Linked DNA regions of Homo sapiens: region 2 is linked to region 1. Evidence: fine-mapped expression QTL. Tissue or cell type: whole blood. Region 1 holds a variant in brackets; the other region holds the start of a gene. All regions are shown on one strand. Distances are from middle to middle.

Region 1 (8,143 bases):
ATTAGGTCTTGTGCCTGCAGGAAATGATTGTCTTTAAATGCTGCCAAAGCAGCCTGGCATGGTGGCACATCTGTAATCCCAGCACTCGGGAGGCTGAGGTGGGAAGATGGCTTGAGACAGAAGTTTGAGGCTGCAGTGAACTATGTTCACACCACTGCACTCCAAGCCTGGGTACCATATTGAGACCCTATCTCAAATAAATTAATAAATAAGTAAAAATTGCCAAAGGAAGCTTACTGACTATCATAGCTGGCTTTATTTCTTTATTTTTAGTTTTTCTTATAAAGATGGGGTCTTGCTGTGTTGCCCAGGGTGGTCTCAAACACCTGGCCTCAAGTGATCTTCCCGCCTCAGCCTTCCAAATTTCTGGGATTACAGGCATGAGCCACCACATCCAGGCTCATAGTTGGCTTTACATTTTTGATTGCTATACCTGAAACTCATTTTCTCTTTTCAATGAAACAGTCCTCTTAATAGCAGTCACCCAGTTTCACAGTCCTTACTGTAACTGTTTCTCCTGTACCTCCTGTACCAAGACATCAAAATCGCCTGGATATTATACAGCCCCGTGTCTCCTATTCCCCTTCACCACAGGGGAATGTCTGCAGCATGCTGGGGACCATCCACTTTCCACCCACCTCAGTGATGGGTCCTCATTGCCATCTGGCTGTGGGTGATCCACCCCCAAATTCCATCCATAGACAACATCTGATATCAACCGGTTTAGGTTGGGTTCTCTGGGAGCAAAGCCTGAGATGGAGATCTTTGTGAAAGCTGTTTATTGAGGGAATGCTCTCTAGAGATGAGGAAGACAGATGGGGCAGTGGAGCAAAACCAAACATGAGTGCGGTCTTGGCCAAGACCCATTTTGGCCTGGTCCCACGGGAAAGCTTTGGAGTACAGCTTGTACCACAGAGTTGCTTCATCTCAAGGTAAAGGGGCCAGCTTTTTGTACAGCCCTGTCAATCAGTCACTGGCTGTTGGTGGCTGTCCTGGAGTGAGATAGGGAATCAGGAAGACTCTTGGATCAGGTGGCTCTGGTTCCCAGTTCTTGGAGAAGGGGTAGCTATGGCTGTTTGTAGCCAAAACTCTCCACAGCAGGGGTACAGAGACCTGGGGAGGGAGTTGGGGAAGGTTGGGACGCCAGCACATGACTACACTCCCGTACATACTTCGGCCCTTGCTTTTTAATTTAATGGTGTATCATATTGGAGATCATTCTAGATCCATTTACCTAGGGCTGACTTGTCCTCTTTAAAAATATTTATTGATGTATAACATACACACAGAAAGATGACAAGTCATCCATGCACAGTTGATTTTCACAAAGTGAGCCCTCCGCTGTGGCCAGCATTCAGATGAAGAAGTAGCACATGGCCAGCACCCCCAGAAGCTCCCCTTCTGCTCCTTTCCTGTTGTTACCTCTAGCCTAAGGTAACCGCAATCCTAACTTCTGTCCTGGTTTGAACTTTATATAAGTGGAACTGTGTTCAATTTGCTCTTTAATGTCTGGCTCCTTTCACTCAGCATCTTTGTGACATTTATTTATCTCATGGTAGCTTAGCCCAGGAGGGTCCTTGGCTTTGCTCAGGAAAGAATTTAAGAGCCAGTGGTGGAAGAAAACAGCTTTATTGAGGCGGCAGTGTTACAGCTCTGTGACTGCTCCTGCAGAGCAGGGCTACCCAAAGGCAGTGTGTTGAGAGTAGCGGCTCAGAGCAGGTTTGTAATCATATTTATACCCACTTTTAATTATGTGCAAATTAAGGGACAAATTATAAAGAAATTTCAAGAAGGATAGTACCTTCCGGGTCATTGGGTCATTGCCATGAAAGAGGGTGGTAACTTCCAGGTGTTGCCGTGGCAATAGTAAACTGACATGGCACACACTGACAGGTATGGGAGGTATGGGCTATCTTATGGAAAGCTGCTTCTGCCCAGTCCCTGTTTTAGCTTGTGCTCAATTTAGTCTGATGTGCGAGCCCCACCTCTGGAGTTGAGTCTCACTTCTTGAGTCAAGTCCTACATCCTACCTCAATGGCGTACAGCAACGAGAAGGAACAAACTATTCCTGTGCTGTGTACGGTTCATTTCCATTGCTGCATAGTATTTCATTGTGTGAATACACCATAATTTATCCACTCTATTGTTTGCAGGCATTGAGCTTTTTTGGGGCATTTTGGCTATTACACATAGTGCTGCTATGAACGTTCTATTATTACATGTATTTTGTTGTGTATATGTATGCATACCTGTTAAGGCTATAGCTAGGAGAATTGCTGAGTCATAGAATATGCTGTAGTAGATACCGCTAACCGCTTTTCAAAGTGATTCTACCAATTTTTTTTTCCCACTAGCAGTGTTTAGAATGTCCAGCACCTAGTATTTTCCATCTTTTTAATCTTAGCCATTGTGGTAGGTTTGTAGAATTTATTTTCATTTTCCCGATAACCAATGAAGTTGGAGAGACAGGTGATCTCCTGGTTACGTGGTGTCTGGAAAAAGATCTAGGGGTCTAAATGCTTTTCACACCAACCCCAGTCTCCTGTTTCCAGCCTTGCTCTACCCCGCTTGTAGGAGGACCTACACCTCCATTTCCTAAGCCTGTCTGGAGTTCTGTGACATGAATATGTTTCTGCCATTTGGGATTTCGGCCCTTTCTGTTCTCCTGAATCGCTTTCCACTTGTCAGTGTGTGTTTCAGCTTCCAAGTTTTTATTATAATATCCTCTCCCATTCCCTCTGCTCTTGTGTTTTGTTTTGTTTTTTTGAGACAGAGTCTCGCTCTGTCACCCAGGCTGGAGTGCAGTGGTGCTATCTCGGCTCACTGTAAACTCCACCTCCCGGGTTCACGCCATTCTGCTGCCTCAGCCTCCTGAGTAGCTGGGACTACAGGCGCCCGCCACCACGCCTGGCTAATTTTTTGTATTTTTAGTAGAGACGGGGTTTCACCATGTTAGCCAGGATGGTCTCGATCTCCTGACCTCGTGATCTGCCCACCTTGGCCTCCCAAAGTGCTGGGATTACAGGTGTGAGCCACCGTGCCCGGCCTGCTCTTGTGGTTTTATATTTTTCTCTCTCTCTTTTTAAATCTCTTTACTATTGTTTTAGTAGCAATTCAGAAGAAAGCAGAGTTATCTAAACTGGAAGGAAACCTAATCGTGTCTGGTACTGTATATTATACAATCATGGAAGAGGACATAGGCCATTTCTATAGAGACTATTTTAAATGAGTTATTTGTCTTTGGGTTTAAACTATCCACTTCACAGCCCACTAAGAAGCGTCCTGCTTTCGGGGGTCTTTCAGCAGAGCCTGCAGAGTCATCTCAGGCTCTAGTGAATTTACCGCCCTTCCCACCATCAGACTGGCTTCACTATTTCTGATGTATTTGAAAGTCTCCTATGGTGGCTGAGTGCGTGGTGTTCTATGCGAACTGAATGAGGCCTTTGGCTATTTTACTTAAGCATTGTAAAGAGTGTTGTGTCATTCTGGAAAGAGCAAAACGATAGAGATAAGAAATAGATCAATGGTTGCCAGGGACTGGGGTGCATGGAGGAGTTGACTAGAGAGGGCACAAGGGAATGTGGGGGTAATGGAAATGTTCTTTATTTTGTTTGTAATGGTGGTTACACTGTTGTGTGTGTTTGTCAAAATTCACAGAACTGTACACCAAAAAGGCTGAATTTTACTGTATATAAATTATACCTTGATAAACAAACCAACAAAAAAACAGAATGTGCCTTGGAAAGAGGTGATTAATAGAAATGTGATTGCCTTCTCTGTGGCCTGGTTCCCATGTAGTCCAGGGAGTCCCGTTTGTGGACGTGTACCCCAGAGAAGTGGTAGCCGTGTCCCCCAGGGCTGTCTGTGGATGTGGAGGTGGGAGGGGTAGCAGGGCAGCATTGCTCCTGCATCAGCAGCCCTCGGCCAGGCGCTAATCTCAGATCTGAAACTATGGGTGCGGCAGCCTCACTGCAGGATGCGGGAGAGCCTGCCCAGGAGCTGTGCCTCAGACCTCTGTTTTGTTTTCTCGCTCAGCTCCTGATTGTTTCGGATCAGGCTTCAGAAGTCACGTTTGTTTGTTAGACAGTCAGGGTCACAACAGACAAAAGGAGAACGTGCTTAACTCTCACGTTACCTTAGACAGTGTCTTCCATTTCCCTAGTGATCCTAAACCGAGAATCTCAGAGAGCCTTTCAGTCACTATGGTAGAAACTTGTATGTGTCCGTGGGTGGGGGGTGGTGGGGGTAGCTGTTTCCAAGATGTTAAATTCCAGTAGAATATAGGGCAGATCTACAATAATTCTTCTGGGTCACGACCAAGTGAGATATATCCTAA[C/T]TGTATTTACTTCAAGTGCTTTGGGATTTGTAGATAAGAGATACTTACCTAATTGCTTGTATTTCATTTGTGCATTATTTTTTCCAAGCATTCAAAATAGCATTACAAGTTCTTTAATGAAGATGTTATCACTAATGCTAATCACTAAGGATCACTAATGATAACATATATTTTTATAGCACTGTATGGTTTTCAAAACATTTTTATTTGATCTTAATGACCCTATGAGATAGACAGAAGCTATAAATCTCATTTTACAGATAAGGACATTGATGCTCAGAGATGTTAAGTTATTTGCCCAAAGTCTTGTGTATGAAGTGAGAGAAGGCTGAGTGCTCTGGCCCACGCCTGTAATCCCAGCATGTTGGGAGGCCGAGGCGGGAGGATCACTTGAGCTCTGGAGTTTGAGACCAGCCTGGGAAACAGCGAGGTCCCGTCTCTACAAAAAGTCAAAAATTAGCTAGGTGTGGTGGCGCGCGGCTGTTACTCACGTGGCTGAAGTGGGAGAATCACTTGAGCCTGAGAGGTTGAGACTGCAGTGATGGCCATCGCAGTCACCCTGTGCAAGAGAGCGGATGCTGTCTCAAAAAAAAAAAAAAAAAAGGAAAGAAAGTGGGAGAGCTGAAACAAGAACCTGTGTCTTCTGGCTGTTGATATCATACTTGTTTTATTAAATCATTTCATCTTCATTTTCCAGTCTTTCATACAACTCACTGGCAGAACCAGAGGGTTTCAGCTGCTAGTCAAGCTTACTCAGTATTACTCCACAAACCCTTAATTTAAAAACACATGGTGGTCTGTGTTTTTCAGTTATTTTGTGAGCATTAATTGTACCAGTCTGCCATTTAGTCTGCGGGGCAAATATTCAAAATCTAAAGAGTCACCATGGGCATATGCTGTACTCTTCCGAAGATCTTGTTGTTCGTGTATTCATTCTACAGACATCTATTTCTGCCTTCTGTATGTGCTGGTCTAATCACTAGGGGTAACACGAAGAGGATTCCTACATGGATTTTGCCCTCAAGTTTATAATTTCATGGAGAAGATCAGACTTGGACATACATAGCTATAATACAGAGCAGGGAGTGAAAAATGAAGTATAAAAATAGTCATGTAAAAGCTTGGAGAAAGGAACTTTATAATGTAAATGTTGCTGACTCGAAAAGTGCCACTAAGTGCTTGAACTTTTGCTTCGTTGTTTGATGCCATGTTTCTTAACAAACCAGAGTACAAAGAACTGCTGTGGTATTCAGTAGTGGAACTAAAGCATCTGTGTTGTAGGAATTTCCTCGAAATTTCTTTGAAACATATTGAAACCAAGTGTGCACACTCTCACCTCTGTTTCCTGTTGTCATTGTGCACCCCATCTGACGGGAAACTATACTTACTGGTTTTGCATTTCAAAGAAAAATCTGGTTAACTTTTTCAGCATTTAAAGAGATGCATAGTGGCCTTAACTGTTACTGAAACTGTTATATAAAAGTCTGTATTGTATTGTCAAAGACTTACGAGTCAAATAGCTTAACAGTTGATTACACGTAAATTTTGTCCCTAAGCAGCACACTTCATTCTCTAAGATGGTCTTTCCCGGCCAATCAAATAAAATAGTAGCCCTGATTATTACAGAAATTAATCAGACATATACTTTATCTTTACATTTTAATATTTTTTTAGACAGGGTCTGCCTCTGTCACCCAGGCTGAAGTGCAGTGGTGCAATTATAGCTCATTGTAGTTTCAACCTCCCAGGCTCAAGCAGTCCTCCCACGTCAGCCTTCCTAGGAGCTGGGACTACAGGCACATACCACTACACCTGGCTAATGTTTTTTTTTTTTTTTTTTTTTTGAGGCGGAGTCTTGCTCTGTCGCCCAGGCTGGAGTGCAGTGGCGTGATCTCAGCTCACTGCAACCTCCACCTCCGGGTTCAAGCAATTCTCTGCCTCAGCCTCCTGAGTAACTGGGATTACAGGTGCCTGCCACCACGCCCAGCTAATTTTTGTATTTTTAGTAGAGACAGGGTTTTGGCCAGGCTGGTCTTAAACTCCTGACCTCATGATCCTCCCGCCTCAGCCTCCCAAAGTGTTGGGATTACAGGTGTGAGCCACCGCGCCCAGCCCTAATTTTTTATTTTTTTGTAGAGACGGTGTCTCACTATGTTGCCCTAACCGATCTTGAACTCCTGGGCTCCAGCGATCCTCCTGCCTCAGCTTCCCAAAGTACTGGGATTATAGGCATAAGCCACCACACCCAGCCCACTTTATCTATAGAAGGCAGCACTGAACTTTAGGGTAAATGTTGGTATAATTATAGAATAGAATGTAGTCCTTAGCCATATTTTCTACTTATTAAAAACTTAAATGCTGGTAACACAAGAGGTTTATGTCCTCTGCTAATCCATATCGTAACTTTTTTTTTTTTCTTTTTGTAGAAACAGTCCCACTATGTTGCCCAGGCTGGTCTTGAACTCCTGGCCTCCCAAAGTGCCGGGACTACAGGTGTGAGCCACTGCATTCAGCCGTGTAAACTTTTTTTTTTTTTTGAGACAGAGTCTCGCCCTGTCGCCCAGGCTGGAGTGCAGTGGCACGATCTCGGCTCACTGCAAGCTCCGCCTCCCGGGTTCGTGCCATTCTTCTGTCTCAGCCTCTGGAGTAGCTGGGACTACAGGGCGCCTGCCACCATGCCCGGCTAATTTTTTGTGTTTTTAGTAGAGACGGGGTTTCATCGTGGTCTCGATCTCCTGACCTCGTGATCCACCCGTCTCGGCCTCCCAAAGTGCTGGGATTACAGGCGTGAGCCATCACGCCCGGCCGTAAACTATTTTTTTAATTCTTTTTTTTTTTTTTTGAGATGGGGTCTCACTCTGTCACCCAGGCTGGAGTGCAGTGGCATGATCATGGCTCACTGCAGCTTTGACTTCCCTGGACTCAAGCGATTTCCCTGGACACTGTGCCCAGTGTAAACTATTTTTAAAAGAGAGAATGGCCAAGCACAGTGGCTCACACCTGTAATCCCAGCACTTTGGGAAGCTGAGGCAGGCAGATCACTTGGGGCCAGGGGTTTGAGGCCAGCCTGGCCAACATGGCGAAACTCCGTCTCTACTAAAAATATAAAAATTAGCTGGGTATGGTGGCACGTGCCTGTGGACCTAGCTATTCAGGAGGCTGAGGCAAGGGAATTACTTGAACCCGGGAGGTGGAAGTCGCAGTGAGGCGAAATTGTGCCACTGCACTCCAGCCTGGTTGACAGTGAGAATCTATTTCAAAAAAAAAAAAAAAAGAGAGAGCAAGCAGTTAGCCTGAGCACTTAACAGAAGTAAGGGTAATAAGTATCAGTGGGTCACATCTACCCTTTACAAAGTTATTTGTCTCCACAATTCCACTGTTATTTCCTGGCCCCACACCACCCTGTGAACACTGGGGCTGGGACTCTGCGGCTCTCTCCATTGCTTGCTACACTTGGCCATGTGCTGCCAGTGGGAGGTGCTGGAAGGTCTACAGGGCTGGAGGAGAAGGACCCACTGCTTCTTGCGCCTGGCTGTTCCTATGACCACCATCCCAGCAATGCCTTTTCATCCCACCAGCTGCAGTTTGTTTCAGCCTTCAGTTGTTTTTGTTTGTGTTCTCCTCCCAACAAACCCAGAACCAGCTGGGCAGTACCCTCACCTCAGAAGTCTGAGTCCCAGCTTCGGAGGGTCCCTTCTCCGGGCTTCCAGGATCTGAGAACCCAACCTCTCCCTTTTGTTTCCTCAGCCATGGGGATGGAAACCGTTTCCTGCAGTTTCTCTCTGTCAGCTCCGTGCCCCCTTTTCG
Region 2 (8,077 bases), 52 kb after region 1:
GGCAGTGACTGTACCTAGCCCAGGGGGCAGGAGCAGGCTCTGCACCTGTCAGCACCTGCTTCTCTCCGTTCTCACACACGAGTGCTGTGGCTCGCACCGTCATCGGAGTCTCAGGTGACACGCATCCTGCTCCTTCCGTGCCGGCTCCTGGGCTGCCCTGCTGGAGACACCATCTGGATTTGGCCAAAGGTCTGGCTCCTGTAATGTTCATTTTCTCTTCCCCAGGTGCCTGGCAGGCTGATGACAATGCCGTCAGTCGGAATGCCCAGCGCCGGCGCTTGTCATCCAGCAGCCTGGAGGACTCTGAGACGAGGCCCTGTGTGTGGGGCCCTTTGGCTGTCTGAGCCCCAGCCTCTGCACTTGGGCTCCCCTCCTGCCCTGCATTCCATCCATCCTCACTCAGCTGCTGCCTACTGGGCATCCTCAGCAAGATGCTGGAGACTTTTTACCCTCCTGTGACAGCTGTTACAACCTGTAACCACAATCCCTCACCTCTCAGAGGGAACTGGAACCCTCCTTTCTCCGTGTGACCTAAAGCCACTCAATGAACTGCAGCTCACGAGACCTTTTGCAGGGACTCTGGAATGTCCTCACGGTATATTGATGTTCAGGTGGAGCTGGGGTCCATGGGCTAATTTCTTACACATCTTTTTTCTCCTTAGGGGGTAGAACAAGAAGGCTTAGAGTTTGGCAGCTTTGTTACAAACATCCCTCTGGCATTTCCTGGTCTCTGGCACATCATAACCAATTGGAAACCTGCAGTTTGGGGTAGGGCTGGAGGATCGCTCCTGTGGAAAGGGAGAGCCATACTGCACGGACGTAGCGTTTCCCTCTACAAGCACTAGGAGCACCTTTCTCAAGGACAAGAAATGGTAGCAACCAAAAGGTTGGTTGAAGGAAACAATCCTTCCTTCTGGTGGCAGAGCCAGTCTTCTGGGCCTCACATGCCTGTGCGGTTAAGAAGGAGCTCTTGGCCGGGCGCGGTGGCTCACGCCTGTAATCCCAGCACTTTGGGAGGCCGAGGCGGGTGGATCATGAGATCAGGAGATCGAGACCATCCTGGCTAACACGGCGAAACCCCGTCTCTACTAAAAATACAAAAAATTAGCTGGGCATGGTTGCAGGCGCCTGTAGTCCCAGCTACTTGGGAGGCTGAGGCAGGAGAATGGCCTGAACCCGGGAGGCGGAGCTTGCAGTGAGCCGAGATCGCGCCAATGCACTCCAGCCTGGGCGACAGAGAAAAAAAAAAAAAAAGAAGGAGCCCTTGAATCTGAGAATCCCCCAGTTAAGATGATTTCCCTTAAGGAGCATTTCTCCTGATCAGGTGCATTCAGGGAGGCCTGCAACTCCATCCTAAGGTGACATTTCAAGAAACACATGTGTTGACCACCTCTGTGTGCCAAGCACTGGGTGAGGAGTGGTCGTATATTACCATAATTCATCCTCACTCAATTGGGAGGTGGCATTCTTGTCCCTGTTGCCCCCATCTCTACCCCCTTTTGTTAATGGTTGAGAGAAATGTGGACCAGTGATTCTCAGTTTGGTGCCCAGGTCCCCAAAGGAAGTGATGGAGAGCCTTGAGCTAAGTTCAGGCAGCAGCATGTGGCCAGCAGCAGTGTGCTGGGAGCAGAGGTTGGAATCAGGGCTCAGGGCCTTCACTTCAAGGGCCCTCCCCAGCTACTCGGGAGGCTGAGGCAGGAGAATCGCTTGAACTCAGGAGGTGGAGGTTGCGGTGAGCCAAGATCGTGCCACTGCACTCCAGCCTGGGCTACAAGATTGAAAAGATCGAAACTCTGTCTCAAACAAAAAAAAAAAAATTCAAGGCTGTTTCCAAGGCAGCCTCAAAAAGAGCCTGGTGCCCAGGGGGTCCTTCGTTTCTGTGTGGCTGCAGAGGCCAGGAGTGCAGTGACTGTCTCACTGCCTAGTGGTTGTGGCTCACATCCTGCCCTGATGGAGAGGGGGGCCTGTCGTCCAACCCTCTCTGAAAAACTGCAGTAGACTTTACCATTTCAGGCCCCACCTAATGTTCTTTCCTTCCTTCCCCCTACATTCTTCCCGCCCCTTTCATAGTTAAGATGCATAAGCTGAGCAATAACCCCACTTCCTGATTTCCCTGAAATATGAGCCCAGAAGCAGCAGGTGACAGGGAGCTTCCCTTACCCTGGGGTGGTGGCACACAGACCACCTCCTGTCCTGTCCCCTGCAGGTAGTATTCACAGTGTGGTGTTACCTGGGAGGAGGGAGGAAGGAGCTGAGATGAAGGAGATTCAGGTAAACAGTAGCCACAGTGGCCAGGACCCCCTTCCTGAGGATCCCTGTCCTTCCTCGCAGCAGGTGCTTAGTCCTCTCCTAGGGAGAAGCACGGAAAGATTCCTCAAGGCCTCAGTCCCATGTCCAAGGCATACCTAGGTTAGAAATGTCCTTTACTTGTTTCTCAGTTACTATTTCTCCTCTTCCTCCCTCCCCCTGCCTTCTCTTGGCTGTCATTTAGCTCTCTGGCCCACAGAAATACTCCATCCAAGGAGCTGGTCCTCAGTCAGCCTGATGAGGACAGGTCAGTGGCCAACCCTTTTGCCCCAGTCCTTCATCTGGAGACAGTCACATAGTCACGTCAACAGTTCACCCAAAGAGAAGAGGTGGGGCCTGGCTTCTCCCACAGGGCACAGCCTAACTATGGAGACCCAGGGCTCCTTCCTGCTGCACTAGGCCTGTGCTCTCCCTATTGCCTTCAGGTGGTGTGATCCCGGCTTCCTCACAGAGCCCTTTTTTCCTTCTGCCCAGCTCCATCCCACCAGAGTTTCTACCCCCGCTGAGGCATCTCCTGGGCACAGACCACCACACTCTAAGCCGGCTGGCCTGGGAGTTAGGGTCCTGCCCACCTCACCTGGGAGTTGGGGTCCTGCCCACCTGGAGTTTAGCACGCTGGTCGCTCACTTTGCTTTGGTCTGCACACCTGGTGTGTGCATGTGTATACTGCTTGTGCCATCTGTGTACCCCTCTCCCTGGAGTACACTTGTGGTCACACTACAGTGGGGACATCAAGAATGCAATATTTATGGATTGCTGCATGATTCTTAAAAATGAATAAAACTGTTTACAAGGGAAGGAGAGCTAACTGCAAAGTGAGCTTATCTGTGAAAGTTTCTGTCTGACTTTCGCCAGCACTCTTTAATACTTTTACTCAAGAGGATCTGGAGTTGGAGGAGTGGGAGAGGCAAGGGCTAGGGAAAGGCATGTTGGCGGGGGAGTGATGCGCCATAGCCGGGCCTTCTTCATGGTCTGGGCACCAGCCTCCCCGACCCCGGCTCTCCAGCTCCTGGGCAGAGGCGGGGTAATCAACCCAGCCCCCACCACTGCCTCTGCAGCCGCCTTAAACCGGAGAACGTCCAACCCTGCAGCTCCTCAATAATTAAAGAGCAGGAAAGCTGGTGACAGGAGGGAGGCCAGGGGAAGGGAGGAGGAAGGGACACAGTCCCCAGAGTCCCTCTACTCTTAATCCCTGTGACTTAAAGGTTGGTGAAATTAATTGGGCAAATGACCCCGCTAGGAGAATTTGACAAGTCCATGACTTCAGAGTTTTACCCACGGGCTCTGCTTCATCAGCTGTCTCCAGAGGAGTGAGTGCGCTTCTGCAGAAGCCTCTGGAATGTCAGCTTCCTGGAACCTCGAGGATACGGGTGGGGAAGGAGCTGCTTACTGGGACACACTGGATTACCCTACCCCCTTGGTGTGTCTGCCGCCTCTGTGGATGTAAGCGGCAGGTGGCATCGGAAAGTCAGACCTGCCTGGGACACCAGAGAAAGACCCTAAGAGTCGGGGGAGAGGGAAAGGCTGCAGAAACATGAGAAAGTGCCACTCGTAGCGGAGAGGAAAGAAAACCTCAAGGATACGGTTCCCGAGCCTGAGCCCGCTCCCAGCCTTAGCCCCCCAACCCCAGGCTCCGTCCCAGGAGCAGTCGACGCCTCAAAGCGTACGGGACAGGAAGGGGGTGGGGGCGAGAGTCTTGGTTCCCCAGAACGAACGGATCCATAGCGGTTCCCGGTGCCGCAGGCCGCGCGCTTCTCCGACCCCAGCGCGGGGCCCTCGGGCGGGAATGAGCCGAGCCGGGACTTAGCGGCGGGTAGGGGGTTGGGTGGCGCGGGAGAGGGCGGCAGAAGGAGGGAGTTCGAAGAGAGTTGCCGCCAGGGAGAGTGGCAAGTGCCCGCGGTCTCCTTGGAGACGTGCTGGCCAATGGCAGAGGCGGAAGCTGTTTATGGGGGCGGAGCGTCGCCATGGCAGCAGGAGAAGCCTTTGGAGCGGCTACTTAATGCCGGTCCCGGGGCCGCGGTAGCTCAGAGAAGCGCCGTCGGGCGGGGGGGCGGCAAGAGGCGCTGGCAGGGCCCCCGAGCTGGGGGCAGAGAGCCGCAGGGGGTGGGAGCAACTTCTTCCAGAACCTTCCTCTGGCCCGGGCTGCGCTCTGAGCCAGGTAAGGGATGGGGAGGGCTGCAGGCCAGGGGGAAGGGTGGGCAACGGTACCAACCCGCTCTCTCATTCGTCCTTAACGGAAGTGGTGGGCCCAGGGACTGACATCGGAGAAGTCTGGGGGAAACTCGCCTCCTGCCCCCCGTTACTGTTCCGTCCCCTTCCTTCCCAATGATCCCCTATCATAATATTCCTTTTCAAGGATCAGAGGACCTCCACCGCCCCCGCCCCGTCGTACCGCCCTCCCAAACTTCTCGCCCCACTTCCATTTGTTGCGAGGAGGAAGGGGGTCCTGATTTCCTGCTCTTCGGGAGAAAAGGATAGCCTCGGATGCCCCTACCCTCTTCATTTGGCTAATAAAACCTCGAAGAGGAAAGGAAGAGGGAGGCAGATCTGATGGGGGTGGGACCCCAGGGCCTTGCTTCTGTTTCCCATACCTCGGCACTAAAAGATCCTCCCCAGCTGCGGGGATGATGTTAGAGAGGGCGTCCCCGTACACACACTGTCCCCTCGGGGGTGGGGTAGTGCTCAGCTCCCACCGTGGTCCTCGCAGGCACCACATACTTATTCGGAGGAGGCGCCCCCGGGGTCGCGAGATGGAAGCGCGCGTCCGGGAGGCCGTGTAACGGGAGCTGCGGGACTCAGCGGGCCAGAGAGCGCGGCGGGCCACCCCCGGCTCAGCCCGTGGATGCTGACCGCCCCCTCGGAGAGTCCCCGCAGACATGGCGGAGAGCTGGCTGCGCCTCTCGGGAGCCGGGCCGGCGGAGGAGGCCGGGCCGGAGGGCGGCCTGGAGGAGCCCGACGCCCTGGATGACAGCCTGACCAGCCTGCAGTGGCTGCAGGAATTCTCCATTCTCAACGCCAAGGCCCCCGCCCTGCCCCCGGGGGGCACCGACCCCCACGGCTACCACCAGGTGCCAGGTTCAGCGGCGCCCGGGTCCCCCCTGGCGGCCGACCCCGCCTGCCTGGGGCAGCCACACACGCCGGGCAAGCCCACGTCGTCGTGCACGTCGCGGAGCGCGCCCCCGGGGCTGCAGGCCCCACCCCCCGACGACGTGGACTACGCCACCAATCCGCACGTGAAGCCTCCCTACTCGTATGCCACGCTCATCTGCATGGCCATGCAGGCCAGCAAGGCCACCAAGATCACCCTGTCGGCCATCTACAAGTGGATCACGGACAACTTCTGCTACTTCCGCCACGCAGATCCCACCTGGCAGGTAGAGGAGGCACGGGCGGCGGCCGCTCCCTCCCCATTCCCTCCTCGCTCCCCACGCTGCACTGGATTCATATCCCAAATCTGCAGGCCAAGTAGGCTCTGCGGTGCGGCCAGCGCCCCAGAAGGGAGCCCTGCAAAGGAGCCCAGTTCTTGCAACTGCCCCTCCTTTGACTTCCAGAGAGAGAGAGAGAGAGAAGGGAGAATGTCCAGAGGTGGAGGGCTTTAGGGGTGCAGAGGCTGAGATTCAAGGGGAAATAACCTGCCATTCATCCAGCAGGCCCAGGCCAAAGACCAGGGCTAGACTCTGCGTGGACAGAATCTCCTTGGGGAGAGCGATGAACTGAAGGCGCATTCTTGTCCCAAGTCCTAGAATTCCTAGACACTGCCCTGCCCCGGGATGGTTTGTCGGGGCCGGGAGTCAGAAACGGAAACTGGAACGTGGCCTCCCTGCCAGGCTCTACGTCCTGCCCTTTTGCAGTTGGCTTGGGGAGGGTGGAATGGAAGGGGTGCCTTAGCATGTGAGGGCCAGGTGTGTCCCAATGGAGGGTGGAGGGGGTAAGGGGCCTTCCTAAAGCTGCTGTCCCAGCCCCCCACCTCAACCTCTGCTCAGTTTCCTGCCTCCAACCCCCGCTGTCAGCCAACCTCCCTGGGGGGACAATTACCTGAGCCAGGTGCCTTCCACTGGGGCTCTGCCTACCACACTCACTTCGTGTTCCACGTCTCTGGAACCAGGCACTGAGCAGCCAAGGGGCCCAGGCCACCATGTAAACATCCCAGCCTTGCTGCCGGGCATTATCCACCCACCTGCCCTGCCGTCCCAGCCCAGGACCCCTGTCCCCCAGCAGGCTTTGGACAAGATTAAGCACCTAAGAATGGACAAGGCAGGAGGATGGTGGATTTGAGGCTGGGTAGGCAGTGCCCTAAGAGTCTTCAGCCATCACCATCAAGGGCTAGTTGGAGTCAGGGGCCCCCCAAGGACGCCCAGACTCTTCCCTGAAGCACCCAAAGCGGGCAGGCCACAGGACCGCAGTCCCAAGCCATTTCCAATGCCCCTGACCCTAGAGCAGGGTCATTTGCAGCTGCACCGAAAAAGCAGAGACCCTCAGCCCCACCCTACCCTAAGCCTGTGCAGCTGCGCTTCGAGAAACGGGCCCCAGGAATGAGTGCTATGCTCTTAGCTCTTGGCTGGGTAATAATCAACTGAGCCTGGAGTGGGGGGAGGGGGCCGTGGGGGGTGAAGGCCCAGGCCAGCAGCCGGCTCAACAAACAAGGAAAGTCATCAGATCCCCCACCTCTCATCCCTGCGCGCTCTCTCTCTCTCTCCCCCTTCCTCTCCACTCTCGGCTGCCCAGCCCCCTCCCTGGACCCACTCACTCACAGAGAGGGCCAGCCAGGCCCAGGCAAAGGGAGACGGTGGTCCAGGCCCTGGGGGAGCCGAGGGCTTTGGCCAGAGGCTGTCAGCGGCAGGGTGAGGGAGGGAGGGCAGGCGACGGGGGTGGCACCGAGAGCCACCCTGCGGCTCAGAGCTCGGATGACTGAGCAGGCAGATATCCCGGCAACAGGGAACAAAAGCCTCCGACAGCACTCCGGGCTCCCAGTGCCCTGTGGCTGGTGTCCCAGAGCTGCAGCCGCCTGGGCAGACCAGTGTGTCTGTCCCCCCCTCCTCTCCCCTGCCAGAGAAAAGATGGGGGGTGCGCAGCAGCGCCAGGTGCCATTTCATCTCCCCGTCCCCACTGACCTAGCGGTTCCTCTCTCTCTTGCTCTCTCCCTGCACCCAGAATTCAATCCGCCACAACCTGTCTCTGAACAAGTGCTTCATCAAAGTGCCTCGGGAGAAGGACGAACCAGGCAAGGGGGGCTTCTGGCGCATTGACCCCCAGTACGCGGAGCGGCTACTGAGCGGCGCTTTCAAGAAGCGGCGACTGCCCCCTGTCCACATCCACCCAGCCTTTGCCCGCCAGGCCGCGCAGGAGCCCAGCGCTGTCCCCCGGGCCGGGCCGCTGACGGTGAATACCGAGGCCCAGCAGCTGCTGCGGGAGTTCGAGGAGGCCACCGGGGAGGCGGGCTGGGGTGCAGGCGAGGGCAGGCTGGGGCATAAGCGCAAACAGCCGCTGCCCAAGCGGGTGGCCAAGGTCCCGCGGCCCCCCAGCACCCTGCTGCCCACCCCGGAGGAGCAGGGTGAGCTGGAACCCCTCAAAGGCAACTTTGACTGGGAGGCCATCTTCGACGCCGGCACTCTGGGCGGGGAGCTGGGTGCACTGGAGGCCCTGGAGCTGAGCCCGCCTCTGAGCCCCGCCTCACACGTGGACGTGGACCTCACCATCCACGGCCGCCACATCGACTGCCCTGCCACCTGGGGGCCTTCGGTGGAGCAGGCTGCCGACAGCCTGGACTTCG

Evidence for each region. PIP is the estimated chance that this variant, and not a neighbour inherited with it, causes the effect.
Region 2: it holds the start of FOXJ1, and the variant in region 1 is fine-mapped to the expression of FOXJ1 in whole blood (TOPMed, PIP 0.96).

The regions. Positions count from the first base shown.
Region 1 is chr17:76,189,638-76,197,780 of GRCh38, reverse strand. All of the region lies in intron 2 of RNF157 (ring finger protein 157), which reads left to right. Among named protein-coding and RNA genes, the nearest start is that of RNF157, 47 kb to the left of the region's middle. RefSeq lists an enhancer at 6,510-7,009. The variant C/T (reference allele first, on the strand shown) is at 4,337.
Region 2 is chr17:76,137,502-76,145,578 of GRCh38, reverse strand. It overlaps FOXJ1 (forkhead box J1), which reads left to right and starts at 4,334. Exons shown (of 3, transcript NM_001454.4): 1 at 4,334-4,465; 2 at 5,015-5,681; 3 at 7,459-8,077. The coding sequence starts at 5,184. It overlaps RNF157 (ring finger protein 157), which reads left to right. Exons shown (of 19, transcript NM_052916.3): 19 at 226-3,105. The coding sequence ends at 344. It overlaps RNF157-AS1 (RNF157 antisense RNA 1), which reads right to left and starts at 5,023. Exons shown (of 8, transcript NR_040017.1): 1 at 4,899-5,023; 2 at 2,231-2,349; 3 at 493-657; 4 at 15-157. RefSeq lists enhancers at 1-81, 1-197, 172-231, 198-746, 5,908-6,567 and 2 more and silencers at 4,339-4,498, 5,177-5,246, 5,307-5,496.